4 linked regions of the Homo sapiens genome follow. The protein of the gene in region 1 purifies or fractionates together with the protein of each later gene. This does not show direct contact. Each region holds a gene or a part of one and is shown in the gene's direction. Other genes may lie near its edges. The genes, in order: CARS1, TTC39A, MCCC2 and SEC24D.

Region 1 (5,277 bases):
TTCTAGTAGCTCCTGTTTCCCAACCAAGGGACTCTTACCTCACCAAGCTGCTGCAAGAAGGCATCCCCAGGCCCGAGGCACCATGGGGGAGGGGTCCTGCCTCTCCCTGTACCATTCCCACCAGCACATAAACACATACTAACTTTTAAAGGGAAAAAGCAGAAATCCTGAGCACTGTGTCTCTGGTTCCTCCAAGCTCAGTGCCCAGCTCCTCCCCCACCTCAGCCCCTTTCCCTCGGCCAGCCCTGCTCTCCCTCCATCTATCTCGAAAGAGCTCGATCCTGTTGGCCCCAGCCCCATCCTGAGTCTCTGAGACCTTTGTGCCTTCCTGGTTTCTTTTCCCTAGCTCTGTGTGTGGCGCCTCCCCAGGAGACCTTATCTGGTCCTGCGGCTTCTCCACCATCTATCTTGTAGCCGGTGGCCCAAAAACAGTTTGCCCAGCTGCCTACCTGATAGCTCCACTGGGCCAGGAAGCCTCTGATATCTAGGCTGTCCAAAGTAAATGTGATTTTCAACTCCCCAAACTTGTTCCTCCTTCCTGCCATGGAGGGCGTGCCTACCTGATAGCTCCACTGGGCTGGGAAGCATCTGAAACCTAGGCTGTCCAAAGGAAAGGTGAAAATGTGATTTTCAACTCCCCAAACTTGCTCCTTTTCCGTCAGTGGAGGGCATGTCTGTTCGTGCAATGGCTCAGGCCAGAACCTCCCAAAGCAACCGAGGGCTTCCCTCACCGGCACCCAGCCTGCTGGCTCCACTAATAAGCTCTCCCTGCAGCATCAGACTGTCCTCGCCCCTGCCCGGGTGCTGCCTGCTGGTTGGAGTGGGCTCTGGTCTCCTCACCTAGCCCCCAAGGCTGCCCTCCGCCCACCATCCCCATCCTGCCCTGGCGCTCTTGCTCCTTCCCAGGTACCCCAAGACCCACTCAGGATAACCCTCACAGTGCTGTCCTGGTCATTGCCTTACAGATCCTCTCTCCTTGGGCCAGGCTCACCATGCTGGTCCATTTCTTCATGTTAGTGGTGCCTGGATCTTTTAGCATTGGTTCTGTTTGTCTGCCTGCTGCATACCTTTGCATCTAGGGCAGGGCCAGGCACCCAGGGGTGCCGCTGAGGATCCCCAAAGGGAATGGAAGAGGGTCGGTGTGCTGCCCGGCACATGGGCTTGTCTCCCCACAGTGGGGAGGGCCTGGTCAGAGTTCAGCCCTCCATGCCAGGCCCTAGGAGAGGGGCTTGTTTGGCTAGACCTCTCACTCCGAGAGACCCAGCAGCCTGAGGCAGCCCTGTCTCATCTGGCTCTGTATTGACCCTCCAGGTTGAAGAGGAGAAGAGGAAGAAGAAAGAGGAGGCGGCCCGGAGGAAACAGGAACAAGAAGTAATGCATTTTGTTTGGGGGTGAGGGCTCTACTGGGCAGGAGTGCACCCTGACCCCATGCCCTGTGGCTCTCTGTGCCTCCGTGGACCTTAGCCAGGCCCCTGCAGACCCTCACAGAAGGAGCTCCGCTTTCTGCCTCCACCACCCAAGGCCTGCCAGGCCCTTCTCACATGGGGTGCAGGGAAGGCCTGGCCAAGGGGAAGGCTGTGCCATGTGGTCACAAGCTCCAAGACAGCGTTTATAGACTTACTACTATTAGGTTTTCTAGTAAGCTTTCCACTATTCCTGTAGAAATAACATCTGGTTTAATTTTAAATTCCTTGTATGTTCCCTCCACCTTGGCTTTCCCCTTCCCATCTTTCATAGCACTCTGAATCTGAGGGCTTGGAAGCAAGTTGAGGGCTGGAGGTATGAGCAGATGTCGTTCACAGTGCGGAGCCCCAGGTGCTGCTCGGGGGCAGTGACTGTGCCGTGTTGCGTGTTCTAGGCAGCAAAGCTGGCCAAGATGAAGATTCCCCCCAGTGAGATGTTCTTGTCAGAAACCGACAAATACTCCAAGTTTGATGAAAATGTAAGCATGTAAGCATCCTTCTCTTCTATTCAGAACTTGATCAGACCACATTAAAGTGGGAGGACAGGAATTTTCAACCTTGGACAAGCAGATTTTCTGTCTGTAGAAAATTTGGAATCAAATCTGACACCCGCTTTAGGTCCAGGGCCTCCTGGCCCAACTACTGAGCTCCTTCCACAGCCCAGGCAGCTAGGCAAGCCCGTGCCAGGGCCCCCTCCACTGGTGTGGTGAGCTCTGGTCCCTAGCCCTGGGAGTTGTGGCCCCGGGCCAAGATCCACCCAGGCCCTCACAAGCTGGCTGAAGTGCCGTGGCGCAGATAGGCCTCCTACCCCCAGTTTCTTCCTTTGTCATAGCGATTCACAGCCACTGCCTCCAAACCTCTAGGCCCCTCCCTGCTGGCATTTGGATGTGTTTGCTATGTACCTTTGGGCCAGCTGTGTCAGAACTCAGCCATGGGTAGGCTCTGAGGGGCACAGTGCCCCTCACCTTAGGCAGGAAGCACCCCCAGACTCTGGTCGCCCCTCTCCCATTCTTAGCTGCTGGAGCCAGCACTGCCAGATGAGTGTGCTGGCTCCAGAGCAGTGTGGTGACTGAATGTCCAAGCAAGAGGACATGGCTGCATCAGGGAGATAGACACTTTGAGACGGGAGGGCAAAGAAAGGGGAGTTGGGGTTACCCAGGTGCAGAGGAGACCAATAGCCGCTGTGCTCTGGGTTTTCAGGGTCTGCCCACACATGACATGGAGGGCAAAGAGCTCAGCAAAGGGCAAGCCAAGAAGCTGAAGAAGCTCTTCGAGGCTCAGGAGAAGCTCTACAAGGAATATCTGCAGATGGCCCAGAATGGAAGCTTCCAGTGAGGGGGCACAGGACTGACTTTTTAAACCATTGTGGACTAGTGGCTGCTGTCTGCCTCAGTGACAATGTCCCAGCGCTCCTATCATGTTTACAGTCACCCTTGGGTCCTAAATTAAGAGTTGTGTTCATGTAGGTTCGTGTCGTCGTTGGCTCTGAGACATTGATAATAAATTTTTCTCAACAGTGAGACCCTCTCTGTCTTGTTCTGCATGTTCAGCACTTGGCAGGAGGCCTGGTGGCCAGCCAGGGCCGCTTGGTCAGCAGGTCACAACTTAGGTGCTTGGGTCAGTTGAGCTGCTTCAGCTGGCCGAGGAATTTCTCCCCCATGCTGATGGCTATCGGCTAATCTCTGGTGTGTGGGCACATTGGGAGGTATTTGAGTAGGAAAAAGACAGGCTCAGACTGGCAGAGCCTGCTGAGCCCTAGACAAAGGCCGCTCAGTCTGCCCTCGGGTTCTGATGAATAAACACACTGCAGGTTTTCCTAGAGCCGTTCCATACTGGGCAGCAGCACAGCGAGTGGCTCAGCAGGCAGGCCCCTGGCGAGCTGCCCAGAACTGCCGCTGGAGACAGCAAGTCCAGGATCTGCATGGCTAATGAGTGAGTTGTGGGGGTGGTCTCAACACAGCAGGGGCCTTCTTGTCCCCAGTGCCCAGTGTTGTCCTTGCCACCCTGCCTCCACACCTGGTTCACCTGGACTAAGAATCACCACCCAGACGCGAAGGTGCTTACCCATCCTTGGCTGAGGAGGGCGTAAGCAGAAACCACAGCCTGCTTCATGCCTGCGGAAGCTGGTGCCAGGCCATATCCATCGGGACAAAAGACAGTCATTGGTGCTGTGGACATCCAGGGGGGGACACTCCATCCAGTGCATGTGGATGGTGGCAGCAGCCTCAGCATGGGGAGTGTGGCAGTGTTGGGTTGTGGGTGCGCCAATTCTTTGTCCTTGCCCTCCGCATGCGCATGCTGTTTACTGCAGTAGTGTGTGACACAGCAAAAGGCTGGAACCAGCCTGTCTGTGCATCAGCAGGGTGCTTGGCACAGCTTGAGAGCACCCACCCAATTATGCAGGGAGCACTAAGGTTATAAATCAATGAGGACAGTCTCTGGGTATTGATAGGCCTGACTTTGAACCTTGTCAGTATTTTATATATAAAAAAATTTAAACCAGCAAGAAAGAAAAGTCCCCCAAACAAAGTAAAACAAACATGTTCCAGTTATCTGTTGCCACTTAACAAATCACCCCAAAACTTCATGGCTGAAAACAACAATGATCATGTTAATAACTCATGGCTCTGGATTGACTGGGCTCAGTTGATTGGTTTTCAGTTGCAGGCAGATGGGGTCATCTCTAAGTTTGTGCCTGGGTCCCACACTAGGGCTGCTTGGGCACCTTTTACCTCTGTGAGACCTGTGTGTGATCTCTCCAGCTTGGCGGCTTCACGGTGGCTGATTTCTGTTGCAACAGCCTATAGCTCCAAAGGTGCGAGTCCTGAGAGAGAGAGAGACAGGAGCTATATGGCCTTTTAGGATCTAACCTCGGAGGTCATGTCCTGACTTCCACCGTCCTCCCTAGCGGAGGCCGTCACAAGGCCCACCCACGTTCGTGCGGAGGGGGAGGCATAGACACTACCCTGTGGTGGGCATTACTGGGTTCCAGAAGGGATGGGAAATACTACTGCAGCTATTTCAGAAAGTACCATCTGGCACAAAAACATAAATCAAATTGGCAACCTCAAGAAAAGAACTTCAACTTTCTGAGAATTGGCCATTTTTTGCTACACATCTTTAATGGGGTATCTTCTAAGGTCAAAGAAAGTACAGAAAAGTCAATTCAATAGTTTTGTTGTTAGTAATAACATTGGCATTATAATTTTCAAACCCTGTATGCCAACACAAATAAGATCACTGACACCCAGGCTGGAGTGCAGGGAAGCAATCTTAGCTCACTGCAACCTCCGCCTCCCGGGTTCAAGCTATTCTTCTGCCTCAGCCTCCCAAGTAGTTGGGATCACAGACACGCGCCACCATGCCCAGCTAATTTTTGTATTTTTAGTAGAGATGGGGTTTCACCATATTGGCCAGGCTGGTCTTGAACTCCTGACCTCAAGTGATCCGCCCGCCTCAGCCTCCCAAAGTGCTGGGATTACAGGTGTGAGCCACTGCGCCCAGCCTAGCAATCAAGTTTTTAATGTAAGACGATAAAATATCAAAGAAGTCAAGGAAAATCACTTTACTATTAAATACGAATTAGAAAAAACAATATGAAGTAACTTGTGATTTTAAAAAGTAGATTGTTTCCTGACTGTGTAGATGGGAAGGGTGGAGAAGCAAGGCAGCCCTGGTGGCACTGAGCAGCCCCAGCCCCGATCTGGGGCTCTAAACCCCATCCCACCCCCTGGAGAAATGGCCAGTTCCAGGTCTGCAGCAGCAGGAGTAGCTGAGCCCAGGCACTCTTGTGCCCCAAAAGGGGAGCTTTCGA
Region 2 (6,279 bases), on another chromosome or scaffold:
TATCACAGTAAAAACAAAATGAAAAAAAGAGGAAAAGTAAAAAAGTCTTTTTTTTTTTTTTTTTTTTGAGACAGAGTCTTGCTCTGTCGCCCAGGCTGGAGTGCAGTGGCATAGTCTCAGCTCATTGCAACCTCTGCCTCCCAGATTCAAGCGATTCTTCTGCCTCAGCCTCCCGAGTGGCTGGGACCACAGACATACGCCACCCCACCTGGCTAATTTTTTGTATTTTTAGTAGAGATGGGGTTTCACCACATTGGCCAGGCTGGTCTCGAACTCCTGACCTCAGGTGATCTGCCTGCCTCGGCCTCCCAAAGTGCTGGGATTACAGGCGTGAGCCACCACGCCTGGCCTATTTATCATCTTTATCTCCCCATTTAATGTGGCTGCTTCCCTGCAGGGATATTGTGAGCTTGTTACAAGGTATTGCTAGGGTATAATGTACCATATAGCATGTGGACATCATGTTACCTTGGAGGCCTATGCTAGAATTTTTCTAGAAAAACCAGACAAGTGCTCTGGCCCCGTCAGCCTCCCTACCAGCTGCCAGAACGAGGTCACCAAAGCACACACCTTGTCAGGCCACCCCTTGCCAACTCCCAAGGCTCCTCTTGCTCTTAAAAGAAGTCCTGGGTTATTGCCAAGTTCTTCCTGGGAGGTCACCCTGGCCCTTCTTGCCACATCTCCCACTTCACTCTGCCTTAGGTCATTGGGCCTTCCCCCAGTTCTTCAAATATGCCAAGGTGGTTCCGACCTCAGGGCCTTTGGACGTGCTGTTCTCTCTGTCAGAAACACTTTCTGCACCGGGCTTTCTGTACCAGATTTCAGCTCAAATGTCACCTCCTCAGGGAAGCCTTTCCTATCCCCAGACTAAGTCAGGCCCAAGGACTCTTCTCCTTGGAGCCTGTCATCACCCTCATAGTGACTCAATCGGGGGGCGGGGGGGGGGGGTCTGTCCCTTAAAGTGAGAATGCTGTGGGGGCAATGGCTTGGTGGTTTTGGTCCCTGCTGTCTTCCAGTGCCTGGCACAGAGAAGCTTCAAGCTTGCTAATTGAAAGCCTTCAAAATGCTGTCAGCCCAGGAAGGAGGCAGACACATCATTAAAAGCCTCTGTCCTGCCCCAGGTGGCTGGGCTAGGGGCTCTGTGCAGTTGGTAACCAGGAGAAATAGAGTTGAATTCCAACCAGGAGACTCCAGGAAGACTTCCTGAAGGAGGAGGTGTTTTGGTTAGCCCAGTGGTTTTCAGCTAGGGGTGACTTCCCCCTGTGAGACTTTTGGCAGTGTCTGGAGACATTCTGGATGTCCAGCTAGGGAGACGATGCTACTGGCATCTGGTGCTCAGGGGCCATGGATGCTGCTAAACATCCTACAATGCACAGAACAGCTCCCCTGCCACCCCCACCAACAAAGAATTATCCAGCCCAAAATGTCAGTAGCGCGGAGGCTGAGAAAACCTCTTTTAGATAGGATGTGGAATACGAACAAATGTCCAGAAGCTGCCCATGGCTGAGTGTGCCAGGGCCCATACGGCTGAAATTCAGGGGGTGAGGAGTGTGTTATCATGGTGGGAGATGGGGTTCGAAATTCCTCAAATACCAGCTCTCAGGATTACCAGAACTGTATGAATCCACCACCAGGGAGTTTACCTGAGGCCCAGCTGGAAGGGGTCCCAGCCCCTACCCCCCACCCCCAGCAGTGGCTGAAACAGGACTTGGCATCTCTCTGCAGGGAGCTGGACAGCCTTGTTCAGTCCTCACAATACTGCAAGGGTGAGAACCACCCGCACTTTGAAGGAGGAGTGAAGCTTGGTGTAGGGGCCTTCAACCTGGTGAGTGCTCCTCCTCCATTTCCACAGCACCTGGCTTGAGCTCAGTCTCCCCTTCTGTCCCTGACTCATGTGTGGTCACTGCCAAGTGCCCCTGCACCTGGCTGTGTGCTGGGCACCAGGATCCAGAGGTGACCAGACATGTGGCCAGCCTTCAGGGGCTCACAGCTGGGGTGGGGGTGGTGTGGGCGCTGGAGCCAGCTCCAGAGTCCATCGGTGCATTTCTTCCCAAGTCAGGCCAGTAGCTTGAAATCCACCATGGTGGAACCTTCACAGCACCCGACCTTGGCACACACAATAAATCAGGGCTTTCTCTGCCCTGGAGAGCTGCTGGTTAAACATTTACCAGTGTCAGGGAAGGAGACAGTCCTGAAACCAGCTGATGACTTAGAGGGGACAGAGAACTAAGTCTTGTTCCTGCATGGAGTGGGGGAAGGTTTCCTACGGGAGGGGGTGAGCATCTGTGCTGGCTCCTGAAGGATCCCTAGGAGTTTCCCAGCTGGGGAGGGGCTTCCAGGCAGAGGGAGCAGGAAGGCTGGGAAAACTGCCTGATCAAGGGAGGAGGAGCTTCCCAGGGAAGATTTAGCCTCAGGAACCTAGGTGGCCAGGGGTTTCCTGGCTAGGCTTCCTGGCACCTGCCCATGGACCCCTGATATCTTAGCTGCCATCTACTGCCCGAGCTTTGGAAAACATTGGCTAGAGGCTTTCAAAGTTAGAGGGGTGGCCCTCTCCCCTCCAGGTAAAGCCTGTTAAAGAGCTAGACTTGGGACAGTGGGGGTGGCCCCTGCCCACTCTGGGTACCTTCACAGGCTTGATTGCCTCCTTTCTTGCAGACACTGTCCATGCTTCCTACTAGGATCCTGAGGCTGTTGGAGTTTGTGGGGTTTTCAGGAAACAAGGTAACCACCTGCCTCCTAGCACCCCTGACCTGCTCAGCCCCAGAACTGGGGCTGGGCTGCACAGGGTGGGGCTGACAGGCCACAGGGCCTAGGAGCCCATCCTGGCTCAGCCCCTCTCATTGTATGGCCCTGGACAATGCCCAGACCTCCCTGGGCCTCAGTCTTCTCTCTGGACAAATGGGGCTAGTGATCCCTGCCTGGCCCTCCCAGGGTGCAGAGGCTCTGGGTGGGTGTGGGTGTGAAGGGCAGCTCCATCAGTGGCCCAGGATCACACATTCTCTGAGCCTGACAGGTGTCAGGGGCTGGTCCCTCTCTCCCTAGATACTGCCTCACTTTAAGACTTTGAGTAAGTCCTTCCCCCAAGGACCATTTTCTGGTGCTACCACTTCATCCAGCAGATGCCTGAGGGAAGCCCTACTGGGCATCAGACCTTGAGGAGGAACCAGAGAACTCAAGCACCCAAAGACTTTACTGAGGGCAAGAACCTGAGTACCAACCCCAGGTTGAAGGCAGCAGATCAGGGAGGGCTTTCTGGTGGAGGAGGCCTAGTGTGGTAGAAGGAGCACTGGCCTGGAAGTTAGGAGCTCTGGGTCAGTCCAGCCTCATCCCCTTTTCTCTGTGACTCTGAGCAAGTCCCTCTCTTCTTTGAGCCTCTTTTTAGTAAAATAAGGGCCTTGTTAATGGACCAGATAAATGTTTCTCAAACGTGCACTGGCCCTTACTGATATTTGCCACACCCACGGACCTCTCTATTATAATTTATATATTACTTTTCTCAAAAGTGACTCATGACTTTTACTGAAATTGATTTAAAGGAAACATCTCTACACAAACCTCCATATTATTTGGCATGATAAGAACATAATCATAAAAATAAATACCACGAGGGCCCAGCCATCTTTTGGAAAGCCCAGCTAGACTGTGTAGCCCAGGCTCAGCCAGGCTTCCTCTTTCTGAGAAAGCGGGCTTAGGGTGAGAGAGTTCAAACCCCACGAGCAAAGGACTGGGGATTTCTCCTGGGCACCACCAAAGGATAGAAAGATAACAGAAGGGAAAACCCTCACCGTGACTCAGTGTTTCCTGGCATCTGCCCATGGACCCCTGAAATCTTAGCTGCTATCTGCTGCCCGAGCTTTGGAAAACATTGGCTAGAGGCTGTGAAGGTCTCTTTCAGTTTTGTTTCCTTAAGAAAGCGCATGGGTCATGAGTAGGATTTCAGGATGAAGGGAGGACCCAGAGGTGAGGCAGTGTGGCCTGGCCAGGAGGGTTGCGGGACCTACTGTGCCAGCCTGGGCTTCCTCTTTATCTCGAAGGCAGGGGAGCCATGGAGGGTTTGAGGCAGGAGTGAGGCAGGTCAGATTTGTGTTTTAGAAAGAACAAGAATGCTCTGGAGGACAGACAGAGGGGCAGAGACTGCAGGCAGGGAAACAAGGTGGGGGGTCTGCCCCCAGCCCCTCCCCAGCCAGGCTCTGGAGGCTTCTCCCCCAGGAAGCCTTCCCAGGCCCCACCTATGCCCTGAGCCCATGGCTGGGATCATCCACCTCCGTGTCTCTCCTGCTCCCAACCAGACCTTGGGCCCTCAATACCCATCGCAGGGCGGCCAAGCCCGTGACTACAGGGAGGCTGGGGAAGGGGCTGTGGAGAAGGTGGGGGACACCTCAGACCCGCCAAGCCTTTGTCCTGGCCTTGGCAGCCGTGTCCCCTTCTCCCAGGAATGTGCTGGGGCACTGAGGGGCAGCCACTTGCTCAGGGCCACACAGCTGACCTGGCCCCCAGGGTTCCAGTGCTCTTCCGCCCCTGTGCCGGCAGCACTGCCCACACAGCTGTCCAGCTGCCTCCCAGGCCCCTGCCCTCTCTGGGAGCCTCACCCACCCTCCCATCCCCTCAGGACTATGGGCTGCTGCAGCTGGAGGAGGGAGCGTCAGGGCACAGCTTCCGCTCTGTGCTCTGTGTCATGCTCCTGCTGTGCTACCACACCTTCCTCACCTTCGTGCTCGGTAGGTGTACAGGGGGACCTGGGGCCCTGGGGTTTGGTCGTCTCCAAGGGGGAAGGAGAACGAGGGGCTACAGACCCTGTTCATGCCCTGTGGCTAGGGATAGGGGTACTGAAACCAGAAACAGAGCCACATCCACTGTCCTGGGGACTGGCCTGCTGACGCCCACTGCCTCACAGTGTGACTGGGTTCCAGCCTCAGTTTTCTCATCTGTGAAATGGGGGTGGTTGTGCCCACCCTGTAGAGGGTGTGAAGACACTGTGTACAGCACCTTATGGTTCTGGGCACAGCCTTGGTGGATGCAGGCTCCTGGTTATCGAGCCCTGTGAAGTGCTGGGGGCGATATCTGCCCTGCCTTATTTAATCCTCATGTCACCCTAGGGACAGGGAGAATTATCTCGATTTCACAGAGGGGGAGGGGGAGACCCTGGGAAGCCCCTGCTGGGTTGCTGGCAGGATCACAGGAGCCAGGGGTGGTGACATGTTCTGTGTCTCCCCCACCATCTCCTCCAGGTACTGGGAACGTCAACATCGAGGAGGCCGAGAAGCTCTTGAAGCCCTACCTGAACCGGTACCCTAAGGTGAGCCCCATGTGCTGCCCGGTACCCCCAGCCCACAAACACCCACAGACCCCACGGACCCACACGGACTTACATGTGTGTCATTGCAGGGTGCCATCTTCCTGTTCTTTGCAGGGAGGATTGAAGTCATTAAAGGCAACATTGATGCAGTGAGTGATGGGGGTCCGGGCCGGGGCTGGGGATCCCTCGGGGTCTCCCAGACCAGCAGGAAGTCAGGCACATGTGACATACTCAGGGACAGGATAGACTGGGGGCGGGGGGGGGGCCAAGAGAGAACCAACCAGAGAGCAGGGGCAGGAGAGGCCCTTCTGGCAGAGCAGCCTGGGAAGACAAGGGAGGAGGAGGCATTTGTGGTGCCTGGGATTTTGACTGGGAGATATAGGACTGCAGCATTGCAGTGGAGGGAGGTGGAGGGAGGTGCTTGAGGGAGGCAGAGGTTAGGAAAGCCCATCTGTTTAGGGCATGACGATTAGGCTGGAGTCTGGTACCTCCCCTCCATTATAGCTCTCTCCTGCTCTTTCATTTTGTTACTAAAAACCAGAGTCCTAGGCGGGGGCTGTATTTGAGCCCAACGTCATGTAAGACTTAGGAGGTAAAACCAGGACTGGAGGCCAGATCTCCTGGCTCCTGGGGCCCCACCTGAGCCTAGCACAGGGCTGGACCACTATGCCCTGGAGGAGTCCCGGTCTGCTGTGGTGTTGGGAGGTTCGGAGGATGCAGAGGGGTTGGGGCTGGGTGGGCACCCGTCAGGCTGACCAGAAGGTGCCTGCAGGCCATCCGGCGTTTCGAGGAGTGCTGTGAGGCCCAGCAGCACTGGAAGCAGTTCCACCACATGTGCTACTGGGAGCTGATGTGGTGCTTCACCTACAAGGGCCAGTGGAAGATGTCCTACTTCTACGCCGACCTGCTCAGCAAGGAGAACTGCTGGTCCAAGGTGGGCTGATGCCACGTGTTAGGGGCATTGGGTGACCAGGGCTGACTGT
Region 3 (5,712 bases), on another chromosome or scaffold:
TTACTGGCATTTGTTGACAAGTATGCTTGTACGTTTGAAAGGTGATTAGTCACTGCCAGGGTCTGTGTGTCGGCGCCAAATAATTACCTCACAGACCATTGCCGCTGTTGGCTCGGTTTTTTTCTTACACCACTTAATGAGGTAATAAATTATCATGCCTGTCCCAGCTGAAGACCTGCTGGTGCCTGCTTTCACATCTTTCTTCAACAACTTTAGTGTTCTGCATTCCGAAGACTAATCTAAGCTTCATGTCTTCCTTTCATCCCTTGGGCAGATGGAAAAAAGAAAGTAACTCTTTCTGCATCTTGTAAAATTAGCTTATGTTGTAATTTATGCTGGCGAAGGCAAACTGGAGAGGAGAGGGGAGAGAAAAGAAAATCAGGCCAGGCACAGTGGCTCACACTTATAATCCCAGCATTTTGAGAGGCCAGGGCGGGCAGATTGCTTGAGCCCAGGAGTTCGAAACTAGCGGGGCAACATGGTGAGACCCAGTCTCTACAAAAAATATACAAAAATTAGCCAGGCGTGATGGTGTGCACCTGTAGTCCCAGCTACTCAGAAGGCTGAGGCAAGCAGATCAGTTGAACCTGGGAGGTCAAGGCTGCAGTGAGCCGAGATCATGCCACTGTGCTCCAACCTGGGTGACAGAACAAGGCCCTATCTCAAAAAAAAAAAAAAAAAGCAAAAGTTAGAGTCCATTACAATCATTTGAATGGTTCCTTGGTGGATACAAAGACAAAACATACTGATTTTCAAGAACATAATTAGTTTGAGGAGATAAATAATACCATTTGGGTGTGTGTATGTGTTTTTGTTTTTGTTTTCTTTAAAGACAGAGTCTCACTCTGTTGCCCAGTTTGGAGTGCAGTGACGTGATCTCAGCTCACTGCAATCTCTGCCTCCCGGACTCAAGCAATCCTCTTGCGTCGGCCTCCAAAGCTGGGACTACAGACATGTGCCACCACACCTGGCTAATTTTTTTGTATTTTTTGTAGAGATGGGGTTTCACCATGTTGGCCAGGCTGGTCTTGAATGCCTGAGCTCAAGTGATCCTGCCTCGGCCTCCCAAAGTGCTTGGATTACAGGCGTGAGCCACCTGTAATCGTGGCTGGCCAATATTTGGGAATTTTTAAAGGTTTTTTGCTGAATATATATTTTTACAAACAAATTTACAGGTATATTTTATTGTGGTGGTTTGATTCATTTAATTAAGAACAAAATATTTTATAGTCTTTGAGAGCTAAACATGTTCCTGATTTTATCATCGTGTAAACAGACATATAGTAGCCAGTAAATGGAAAGAAGCAATAGAAAGCCGTATAAGAGGTTTGAGATGAAATATAAAATATATATTGTTAAGCTTTTCTATAGTTTTTTTTTTCCACATAAGATTTTGACTGAAATACACAGGGACAGCTGAAATATTAAAGTTTGAAAAATTGTGTATTTTGTGTGAGCTGTTAGCTTGTTTTTCAGCCCTGGCTAAGATAAATCATCTCTTGAGAAAGATTGCATCTTTTATTATTTTCATACTAACATTATTATTATTTTTTAATGGATTACATTCAAGGCAGAAGAGTAAATGGCCCAGAGAGACTTATCTTTGGAAATAAATGTTAACAGACAGTAAAGTTTTCTGTGGATCTGTAGATTTTTTTTTTTTTTTTTTGAGACAGAGTTTCTTGTTGCCCAGGCTGGAGTGCAATGGCATGATCTCGGCTCACTGCAACTTCCGCCTCCTGGGTTCAAGGGATTCTCCTGCCTCAGCCTCCCGAGTAGCTGGGATTACAGGCGTGTGCCACCACGCCTGGCTAATTTTGTATTTTTAATAGAGATGGGGTTTCTCCATGTTGGTCAGGCTTGTCTCGAACTCCCAACCTCAGGTGATCCACCCGCCTCGGCTTCCCAAAGTACTGGGATTACAGGCATGAGCCACTGCACCTGGCCAGATCTGTAGATGTTTAACCCTTCTGTTGAAACAGCTGGTGGCATGGAGACAGCAGCTTTCTTTCAAAGCTGAAAGGATTTCCAAGCCAGTTTATGGTACCTTCCTTGGGTTTAGTAAATCTCAGCTTCACAGTAAAATTCCCTGGCCTGCTTAGGTTTGAACATGGCTAGATCTGTCTTTTCAGAGACAGAGCTTGTTATTATCAGTTACTGAAACCTACAATGTTTTCCTTAATCCTAATAGGTTACATATGTAGCGTGCCAATTTGCTTCTGCTCAGTTGTTTTTATAATCAAACTTTTATCCGGCATTTCATTAGTGCCTCTTACCTGGGGCAGTCTTTTTAATGAACATTATTAAGCAGCCCCTTCATCACCATGCTTGCTGTGCTGCAGGCTTCAGAGGGAGTGTAATCAATTCACCTGGTTGCAGATGACAAGAGTGGCTTTCTTTTTATTGGGTGTTGATACTTTAGGGTCCCTATTATGAATGTTTTATGAGCAAAGGTTTGATTCATGTCTGTCAATGTAAGAATGGTTTAATAGTTGATGCCAGGTTCAGATACCGAAGGGAGTTTATATAAAAAAAGCAAACTGCCACCTACTAATAACCTTTAAAAAGTAATATTTCTCAGTCATTTTTCGTTATACATTTGAGGTTGTCAATGAGAAGGAAACTAAAATTTCTACTTAAAAGTTTCTTCTGCAAGCAGTTTAAAGTTATTGTTTTTCCTATTGTAGCAAAAAATAAAGACCTACATTTGAAGGTATCTATTTTATTAATAAAATGTACTGAAGCTGGCCGGGTGTGGTGGCTCACGCCTGTAATCGCAGCACTTTGGGAGGCTGAGGTGGGCGGATCACCTGAGGTCAGGAGTTCAAAACTGGCCTGGCCAACATGGCGAAACCCCGTCTCTTCTACAAATACAAAAATTAGCCAAGTGTGGTAGCGCACTCCTGTAATACCAGCTGCTAGGGAGGCTGAGGCAGGAGAATTGCTTGAACCCAGAGGGCGGAGATTGCAGTGAACTGAGATCGTGCCACTGCACTGCACTCCAGCCTGGGTGACAGAGCGAGACTCCATCTCAAAAATAATAATAATAATAAATAAGATAAAATGTACTGAAGCCTATTCAATAATTTTCATAGTTTCTTAAGAGTTTGGATGGGGGTTGGGGAATATACATTTTCCAGTAAAGTTTGAGGTTATTACCTGGGTATATGTGGTTCTGCATATTAATGACAGAATACACCAACTTGGCTTATATATTTGTGTGGGAAGAAAAGGAATAGGAAAATTTTTCCTGAAATAAGTAAACGTATTGTCAAATTAGGGGTTACTTTGAGATCTCTTATAAAAGTAGTTCCTTAAGCCTTAAGCCTGACATGACATTCTGTGGTGGCCTGGGATGAAGGTCATATCATTTTTTTCCACGTTTTCCCCCTCTGTCTTGAACGTAGTTTCTGTTGTGAGATTATGGTACATGGATGCTAATCAGTAGATCCATATATTACCTGAAGGAAAACTTCCTTGGCATTTCTGCACATGGAGAGTGTATAAATGGTAGTTTGGTGGTAAATTCATAACTCTTTTTTTGTTCTTTTGTCAGGGTATGGGATGATGGGATCATTGATCCAGCAGACACCAGACTGGTCTTGGGTCTCAGTTTTAGTGCAGCCCTCAACGCACCAATAGAGAAGACTGACTTCGGTATCTTCAGGATGTAACTGGAATAAAGGATGTTTTCTGTTGGACATGTACTGAAAATTAACACATGTAGTAGCCTTAAAATTTTAGACTTCTCGAACATGAGGCTGTTACAGTAATTTTTTTAACACTGTGCATTGTACTTTTCTACCTTAAAAAAATCAGTGAGGATATTTATTTAATGAACATCAATTCCTTTTAAATTTTCTTAGAGAAATTTCTCTGTGGCTCAGTTTTACCACCCATAAAGCGGAGACAGTAATTTACGGTTATCCTTTCTGACCCACAAAGTATGAAAAGTTCTGTAATCTGTAAACTCAGTTCTGTAATCTGTATTATTGAGATGATTAATATAAAGTTGTATTTTCACTGAAATGATTGTTTTGCTGGTTATGCTTGGTGATATTTTAGCGGGCTTATTTTTGAAAGGCATCTGTTACTTCAGTGGCATAAAGTGCCCTCACACTGCTGTGCAGCCATCACCACCATTCATCTCCAGAATTTGTTCTCAGTCCCAAACTGAAACTATACCATTCAAACAACAGCGCTCCCCATTTCCCCCTCCCCCGAGCCCATGACATCTCCTTATTATTATTTTTTTTTTGAGACAGGGTGTTTCTCTGTTGCCCAGGCTGGAGTGCGGTGGTGTGATCTCGGCTCACTGCAGCTTCCACCTCCCGGGTTCAAGCGATTCTTGTGCCTCAGCCTCCCAAGCAGCTGGGACTATAGGCACGCACCACCACACCCAGCTAAGTTCTGTATTTTTAGCAGAGACGGGATTTCACTAGGTTGCCCAGGCTGGTCTCAAACTACTGACCTCAAGTGATCCACCCGCCTCGGCCTCCCAAAGTGCTGGGATTACAGGTGTGAGCCACCGCGCCTGACCACATCTCCTTATTCTTAAATGTATGTGTTTCTCATGGTTTGATTTATTCTTGCTGGGCCATTTCAGCCCCTGTCATGGCTTCACTCGCCATCTAAATGCAGATGATTACTGCCTTGACGGTTCTTAACCCAGCTCTCCCCTGAGCTGCAGGCCTGCATATCCAGTAGGTCTACTGGACATCTGTACTGGTTGTTGTGGAGGAACCTCTGGCTTGCTCATTAAGTCCTACTGATTTTCACTATCCCCTGAATTTCCCCACTTATTTTTGTCTTTCACTATCGCAGGCCTTAGAAGAGGTCTACCTGCCTCCAGTCTTACCTAGTCCAGTCTACCCCCTGGAGTTAGAATGGCCATCCTGAAGTGAAAAGTAATGTCAGATTACTCCCTTCAGTGATTTCTTGTAGAAGTGCCAATCCCTGAATGCCACCAAGATCTTAATCTTCACATCTTTAATCTTATCTCTTTGACTCCTCTTTACACCGGAGAACGGCTCCAGCTGTTCTAGCTCTCTTTCAGTTCTTTGAACCTTCCCACCTTAGGGTCTATAAGGTTCCCTCTGCCCAAATTGTTCTACTCTCCCTTCTTCTTCAACACATCCTTCAGTTTAAGCACTTGCTTCTCTCAGTTTAAACTCCACTTCCTTAGGGATGTCTCTGTGACCTCCCTGTGCTGGATTAGCTTCCCTACTCTATGCTCTTGTAAAACACTATCTACTTCCTTTGTCATAAACTCATCATTTTCCTATAAACATTAATATTGTCCTCCTGCTAGAATGTAAGCTCCGTGAGAGCAAGGATCCTCCTGTTTACCCTGTACCTCCAATGTCTGGCACTTGTAGGTGCTCAAATATTCGTTGAATGAATGAAAAATCCATATTGTAATTGATGTCCTCTGGCCACATAGTTTTAAAATTAGGTGATTGATTATATGACCGAATAGAACTATCAAATGTTTTCCTAATAAAGTCAATATTTCAAACATTTGTGTGTGATATTTAGTATTTTAAACATTTGTGTGTGATGTTCAATGTGTACCAGGAAGTCAATTTAGTTTTTGTGGGGAGAATATAGATAGATGATCAAATTCAGTGGTAGGTTACATTTTCAGAAGCAATACATTAAGTATATTAAAATAGTAATATTAAAATTTTAATGAAAATGCACATCTATGTC
Region 4 (6,279 bases), on another chromosome or scaffold:
TACTCCCATTTTAATTTTGTTGTTTAGATTATAGGTTTAAAAAGCTGTGTTCCCTGGTGGGTAGATGACACATATAAATTCAAGAGCAGATGGAAAACAAAGTATACCGTTGGTCCTTTTTATAAGGAGAGTTCTGCATCTTGGCTTCAACCAACCTCGGATCAAAAATACTCAGAACCAAATATTGCATTATACTGAATATGTACAGACTTTTTTCTTGTCATTATCCCCTATAGGATAACAATTATTTACATAACGTTCACATTGTATTGGGTATTACAAGTAACATAGGCAGGGCACAGTGGCCCAATGCCTGTAATCCCAGTGCTTTGAGAGGTTGAGGTGGGAAGATCACGTGAGGGCGGGAGTTCAAAATCAGCCTGGGCTACATAGCAAGACCCTGTCTCTACAAAAAATTTAAAAATAAGTAACCTACAGGTGATTTAAGGGACACGTAAAATGTGTGTAGGTTATATGCAAATATGCCATTTTATGTCAGGGACTTGAGCATCTGGTGGAGTTTGGTATCTGTGGGAGGTTCTGGATCAAATCCCTCACAGATAACGAGAGACAACTGTGTGTGTGTGTGTGTGTGTGTATATATATATATAGGAACCATATATATTTATGGTTCGGCAATTCCATACTTCCTAAGTGTTTGGTGATAGAATGAGCTCATTCATCCTCAGAGTCAAATATCAATGTGAGCTTTCATAATGGAGAAAAATATATTTTATGTAAAATATACTTAAGATAATGTTTTTAAAAGTGACTGCATATTTGTTTTAAATTATTGGGATTTTAGGGATCAATTCATTACACTTCTCTTTTCCAAGCCTGATTGAGAGAGATATTCAAGAGACAATCAAAATGTCAGCACTATAATGGGCCTGAGTCTGCAGGCAAGTGGGCTTGCTGATTCACCCCTGAATTTCACAAACTTATGCGCCCCGGCACAGAGTGGGCACGATCTGAGTTTCTCCTGTGGACCCCTGTGCCTTGAAAAAAACACTGTATTGAGGGACAGAAAATATGTGCCTCCTGCAGGCAAGCTGCCTTCCTATGGAGAGGACCCAGAAGAGGCTGGGCTGTGCCCACCCAGTTCCTTTTCCCAAACTTATTAATCAGATGAGTCACTCCCCATCACCTAAGGAGAAGGGGTCAGGGGTGTACCTCTAATGTGTGTGCCTGGGCAGGCGTGGAGGCATGGACTGGGAAGGTGTATTCTCCAACATAAATGACAAATGTTAGTCATCATCTGTTTTTATTAATCATCAATAAAATTATGAATAGAGACTAGTTACATATTTCTTTATAAACTAAGGGACTTGATAAGACCAAAGATTGTAAATGAAATAAAATTGAAAAAGCTTTAACAACTCTTTCTAAGACTTCTGGATAAAAGTATGTTTTTTCAGATACACTCTAGAAAATAAACTTTTAATAATCATACAGAATTCTGACCCTTACTGATTCTACCCACATTCTGGGTATTGAGGTACATGAAGCCTACCATGCTAATCAATTTTAGCTCCTTTTCCAGTTAGGGGGATAAATTTCATCAGAAGCTTTCCCCCCCCCACTTTTCCAAAAAGGACTTTATCATCTTCCATTCCTGGCATATGTGAATTGTGCTGGGGTTCTTGCTAGGTCCTTTGCTATGTACTGGTGTGATCATCTACATGGTAGTGACTTGGCTTCAAAGAGCAGCCTACCAAGTGATGTGTAGGCAGGGGGTGCTCTGTGGTGTAATCATCCAGGCTTATTACTTTTTTTTTTCTATTTAAGTTTTTGAGTTACTTGCCAACCCCATGTCATTTCTGATATAAAAGGATATTTACTTGTACCTCAGTGTATCCATAATTATTACTGATTCTTTCAATGTTACTAAAAAAGAAATGTTATAATGCAGCAGAGGAAAAGCCAGTAAGATGTAAACAGGCAGTAAAATATTTTATAATAAAAGAGTGTTAATGTTGCCTATGCTGCCATTCAGTTGTTTGTTTACTCCAGTTGTTGCAAAACTGAATCCTGCCGTAGCATTTCTTTCTTATCTTCAACAATACAAATTTTAATAGTCTTTTCCATTCAATAACATTGTAAGATAAAAATGATGGTCAAGAACTATGCAGGCACCACCCAGTTGTATGTAAGCAACTAAAGGGATTATTGTAAAGATTGTGTCTATGATCTCCCTCTTTCCTTTCCTCCTTCATTCCCTTCGTGTTTGGGACTGGGGGGAAGGGATGAGATGCGTGCGTCAGTGTCTCTCCTATGTGTCAAGTAGTAGTGAGAATTTCCTAAAGAGTTTCACTGACAGATGAGAAGCTTTAGAAGCTCAGCTAGTTTGTTTCCTCTCTTGGGTGACCTCTGAGCTCAGTATTGTGCACATGTGCATATTATATAAATGTTGCTTAGTTGTGGAATGTGGACAGTTTTCAGAAATACGGTGATCGTAGAGTAGTTAACAGGGCTAGGAGAAGGGGTTTCTACTTTCCCTGACATAGCTTCACAAAGCTCTGAATGTGGTCAGACTTAAAAAGCCCCAATTGCAAGGTCTTTCCCTAGCCTCATTAAACGGGTATTATACATTGGGTCTTAACCTTGTCTCTAACCCTAAGCCACTGAGTGGATCACTTATGCTCTCTTAATTTTCCCATTTGCAATTAATAACCGATTTTCTCATCCAAGTGTTAAAATGAAAGAAAATAATAGATGAGATTTTAGTTTCAAAAGTTAAGAAACACTGTCCAAAAATGCTATATTTTCTTTAACCAAAGAAGCATAATATATAATAAAAAAATATGCTAAATCGGGATTTTAAAAATAATTATTATAACTCAGGATTAAAATGAGAACGTTATTTTAAGTATTTTACTGCCATCTGGTGGACATTGATTAGACTTTTATTTTTTAGATGCACTTGGATAGACAACAATTTTTGAACGACCTCAGAAATGATATTGAAAAGAAAATAGGCTTTGATGCTATTATGAGGGTTCGTACCAGCACAGGTAATTATCATTTATACAATTCTTCGGGTCTCTCTTGAATAATTGTTTCTTTTTCAAATTAATAACAGGCCAACAAAGAAAATAACAGTAGAATAAAGACAAGCAAAATTTCCCTTTTTCCCTTATCTTTAGGTTTCAGAGCCACTGATTTCTTTGGTGGAATCTTGATGAACAACACCACCGATGTAGAAATGGCTGCCATCGATTGTGACAAGGCAGTGACCGTGGAGTTCAAGCACGATGACAAACTCAGTGAAGACAGTGGAGCCTTAATCCAGGTGATTGAAAGTGTATTCCCACCTTTCGTTATTTTAGTTTGTTGCCGACAATGATCAGTGGGGAGACTGAAATACCATCAAATGTGTTAGTCTCTTCATAAAAAAATTCAACTCTTTCTCCAAAGTCAAAAGTCAGTAGATTAGAACACTCAGTTGGGAGGTTTCTCCATACTCATTCATATTTGCTACTTATATGAAGTGACAATTATGTGTCATTGCATGCAAGTCCAGCAAATTTGTGGTAAGTATCACAGGCATCAGCAAACTGACTTCCAACGGTATTCACTTCTGTTAGGCTTCAGCACCTATTCACATCTACCATATGAATATTAATTTGCTAGGGCTGCTATAACAAACACTACAGAATAAGCAGCTTAAACAACAGAAATTTATTTTCTCACAGTTCTGGAGGCTGGAATTCCAAGATCAAGGTTTCTGAGGGCCTAGAGGGAAGGATCTGTTCCAGGCCCCTGTCCTTGGTTTGTAGATGGTTTTCTTCTCCCTGTGTCTTCACATCATCTTCCCTCTGTTACATGCCTATATCCAAAGTTTTTCCTCTTATAAGGACACCAGTCATAGTGAATTAGGGTGCACTCTAATGAACTCATTTTAATTAATTTACCTCTTTAAATACCTCATCTCCAAATACTTAGGTACTAGGGGGTTAGGACATTTGAGGAGCCACAGTTCAGCCCGTAATACGATGTTAAGCAAGTGGAATAGGATTTGGCTTTCTTTAAAGTGAAACTAACTAGAAGCCATAGAGACTGAATTAAAACAAGAAAAACTATGACCACTAGATATACATGGTCATAGTTTCCAAACATTGGCATCATCTTTAAAGGATGAAGAGAGGCTGGCATTAGGTTGAAGAAGAACTTTTAACTAAAGTTTATTTTTTAATCACATATATTTGGTGAAATGCTTCTATCTATGCATTCTTCAAATGTATATCATCAGCATAAGACCTAAGTCCATTGTGAAAGCTAGTTGTATGTTTTTAAGAAAGTGAGCCTTGAGTAGGGCTCTGAGCACATGAAGGTATTGTTTCTGCCCCTGGATCCCTGGTAATAAAACATGAGCTATGAAAAATGCAGACTAGTTGTAGAAATGTGAAATAGATATTTACATGTGAATCACTCAACAATTTAAACCAGTGAAGTGCTACATTGAAACCCAGCAAATGAATGGGTCATTATTCTCCCATATTTCCTGTTGTTCATTCTTTAACAATAATAGAAAAAAAACTGTGGAAAAATAGTTAGAGGTCTTTTATCTATCTGTACACAGTGTTTTGTAAATGCAAGTAAGATCAAGTTAGCTTGGGTGGATATGTTAATCAGAAAAACATGTGACCTCAATGTTGCTTCTACAGTGTGCTGTGCTTTACACGACAATCAGTGGTCAAAGAAGACTTCGGATTCACAATCTTGGCTTAAACTGCAGCTCTCAGCTAGCTGATCTTTATAAGAGCTGTGAGACAGATGCTCTTATCAACTTCTTTGCCAAGTCAGGTAACACTTTGCCAATCCTGAGGTTCAGTAAACCTTGCTTAGTAATTCAGTCAAGATTTGTCAGTAGCTAAAAAGCACTGTAGTTTTGCAACCTTATGGTGGGTAAATTCAGAACTAATAAAAGCAAAGGCTGAGAGAGAATAGTCAGCATTCCTAACTCTAAATTAATAAGTGAGGTAACTCAGTTCAGGGTCTGGCTATACAGACTTACTTAAAGTTAACTTCTGGGGTGGCAGTCTGAGTTGAAATTTAGGAATATGATGCTTAGACCCTTATTATGGTACATGATCATGCCCTCTGACACATTGGGTTAATGGACAGAGACGATCTCTAATGTTAGACTAAACTTGCTTATCCATACCATGATAACTATGAAATAGAATGGGCCCAAGGTGGAATTTTCTTTGGCTTTCCTTGAGAAATTCTACACTAAAGTTTGGAAAAGGTAGCAATCCAGCCCGTAAGAATTCAGGACATCAAAAAATGACAAATTGGCCTGTCTTTTTTTCTGTGTGTACAATTCTAATATTCTGAAGGTAAATCTGGCCAATATAACCTTTTGCTGTAGGTAGGCCAATGTTCTCCATTAGTTAGATCATCATATTTAGTCAAGAGGAGACCATTAGCAAATGACTTGAACAGATTTAAATGCTATTATTCTTGCTGGGTGGTCTGAAGATAATAGCAACTTGTTCTTTTTTGTTTGATTATTTGAAGAGATCAGTGTCTGAGCTAAAACTCATGTCCTTTTCATTGTTTTGTGATGTAGCTTTTAAAGCAGTTCTCCACCAGCCTTTGAAGGTCATCCGGGAAATTCTAGTTAATCAGACTGCCCATATGTTGGCATGTTACCGGAAGAATTGTGCAAGTCCTTCTGCAGCAAGCCAGGTGAGCTACCTATTGCACATAGATGTTAAAGTGTTACAAACGACTACTCATTTCTTCAGCACATAGCTATAGAAGGCTTATGATGTTGCAGGCACTTAGATGCTGTTACAGTAAACAGTGTAGCTGAGAAGATTAAGAATGCAATTTGGGGGGGCTGTGGTTTTTTTTTTTATAGCCAACATTTAAAAATGTGAACAAAAAAAATGGATGTGCATATTCAGTTGACAGTCACTACGGTATGTATAAACAAAAGAATGTTATATGTAAGAAGTGTCCTAATATAAACAGGATTCTGTTTTGTATCCAGAGATGGGTATTTTGTTATGAAATGTGTATGCTTAAATACATTTTAGGCATATTAACAAAGTTGACATGAGCTGATGGCAGTAATAACATTTTATAAACAAATATAATTTATAAATATAAATACAGGAATTCTTTACATTTAAAAGTTATTAATAGGTGTGAAGAGTTTTCAAAGAATTGACTCTCTCCATCATCTAGTAATTTGAAATTTTAGAAGATTCTTTGAATAAACCTCATTTAGTCTCTCTCCTATAAAAGGAAAAGCAGAACCTCAAGTCC

Evidence for each region.
Region 2: the proteins of CARS1 (region 1) and TTC39A fractionate together in Homo sapiens (co-fractionation; one large-scale study listed by BioGRID). This does not show direct contact.
Region 3: the proteins of CARS1 (region 1) and MCCC2 fractionate together in Homo sapiens (co-fractionation; one large-scale study listed by BioGRID). This does not show direct contact.
Region 4: the proteins of CARS1 (region 1) and SEC24D fractionate together in Homo sapiens (co-fractionation; one large-scale study listed by BioGRID). This does not show direct contact.

Annotation. Positions count from the first base shown.
Region 1 is NC_000011.10:2,998,635-3,003,911, reverse strand, and holds the end of CARS1 (cysteine--tRNA ligase, cytoplasmic), read left to right. Parts: intron 1-1,311; coding exon 1,312-1,371; intron 1,372-1,737; coding exon of another isoform or gene 1,738-1,770; exon of another isoform or gene 1,771-1,858; coding exon 1,859-1,942; coding exon of another isoform or gene 1,943-1,950; exon of another isoform or gene 1,951-2,019; intron 2,020-2,663; coding exon 2,664-2,798; 3' UTR 2,799-2,983; downstream 2,984-5,277. UniProt on the Homo sapiens protein: Catalyzes the ATP-dependent ligation of cysteine to tRNA(Cys).
Region 2 is NC_000001.11:51,301,523-51,307,801, reverse strand, and holds part of TTC39A (tetratricopeptide repeat protein 39A), read left to right. Parts: intron 1-1,725; coding exon 1,726-1,825; intron 1,826-2,655; coding exon 2,656-2,721; intron 2,722-4,609; coding exon 4,610-4,718; intron 4,719-5,228; coding exon 5,229-5,296; intron 5,297-5,385; coding exon 5,386-5,445; intron 5,446-6,068; coding exon 6,069-6,230; intron 6,231-6,279.
Region 3 is NC_000005.10:71,653,187-71,658,898, forward strand, and holds the end of MCCC2 (methylcrotonoyl-CoA carboxylase beta chain, mitochondrial isoform 1 precursor), read left to right. Parts: intron 1-3,556; coding exon 3,557-3,674; 3' UTR 3,675-5,520; downstream 5,521-5,712. UniProt on the Homo sapiens protein: Carboxyltransferase subunit of the 3-methylcrotonyl-CoA carboxylase, an enzyme that catalyzes the conversion of 3-methylcrotonyl-CoA to 3-methylglutaconyl-CoA, a critical step for leucine and isovaleric acid catabolism.
Region 4 is NC_000004.12:118,737,676-118,743,954, reverse strand, and holds part of SEC24D (protein transport protein Sec24D), read left to right. Parts: intron 1-2,917; coding exon 2,918-3,014; intron 3,015-3,146; coding exon 3,147-3,292; intron 3,293-4,667; coding exon 4,668-4,806; intron 4,807-5,575; coding exon 5,576-5,694; intron 5,695-6,279. UniProt on the Homo sapiens protein: Component of the coat protein complex II (COPII) which promotes the formation of transport vesicles from the endoplasmic reticulum (ER).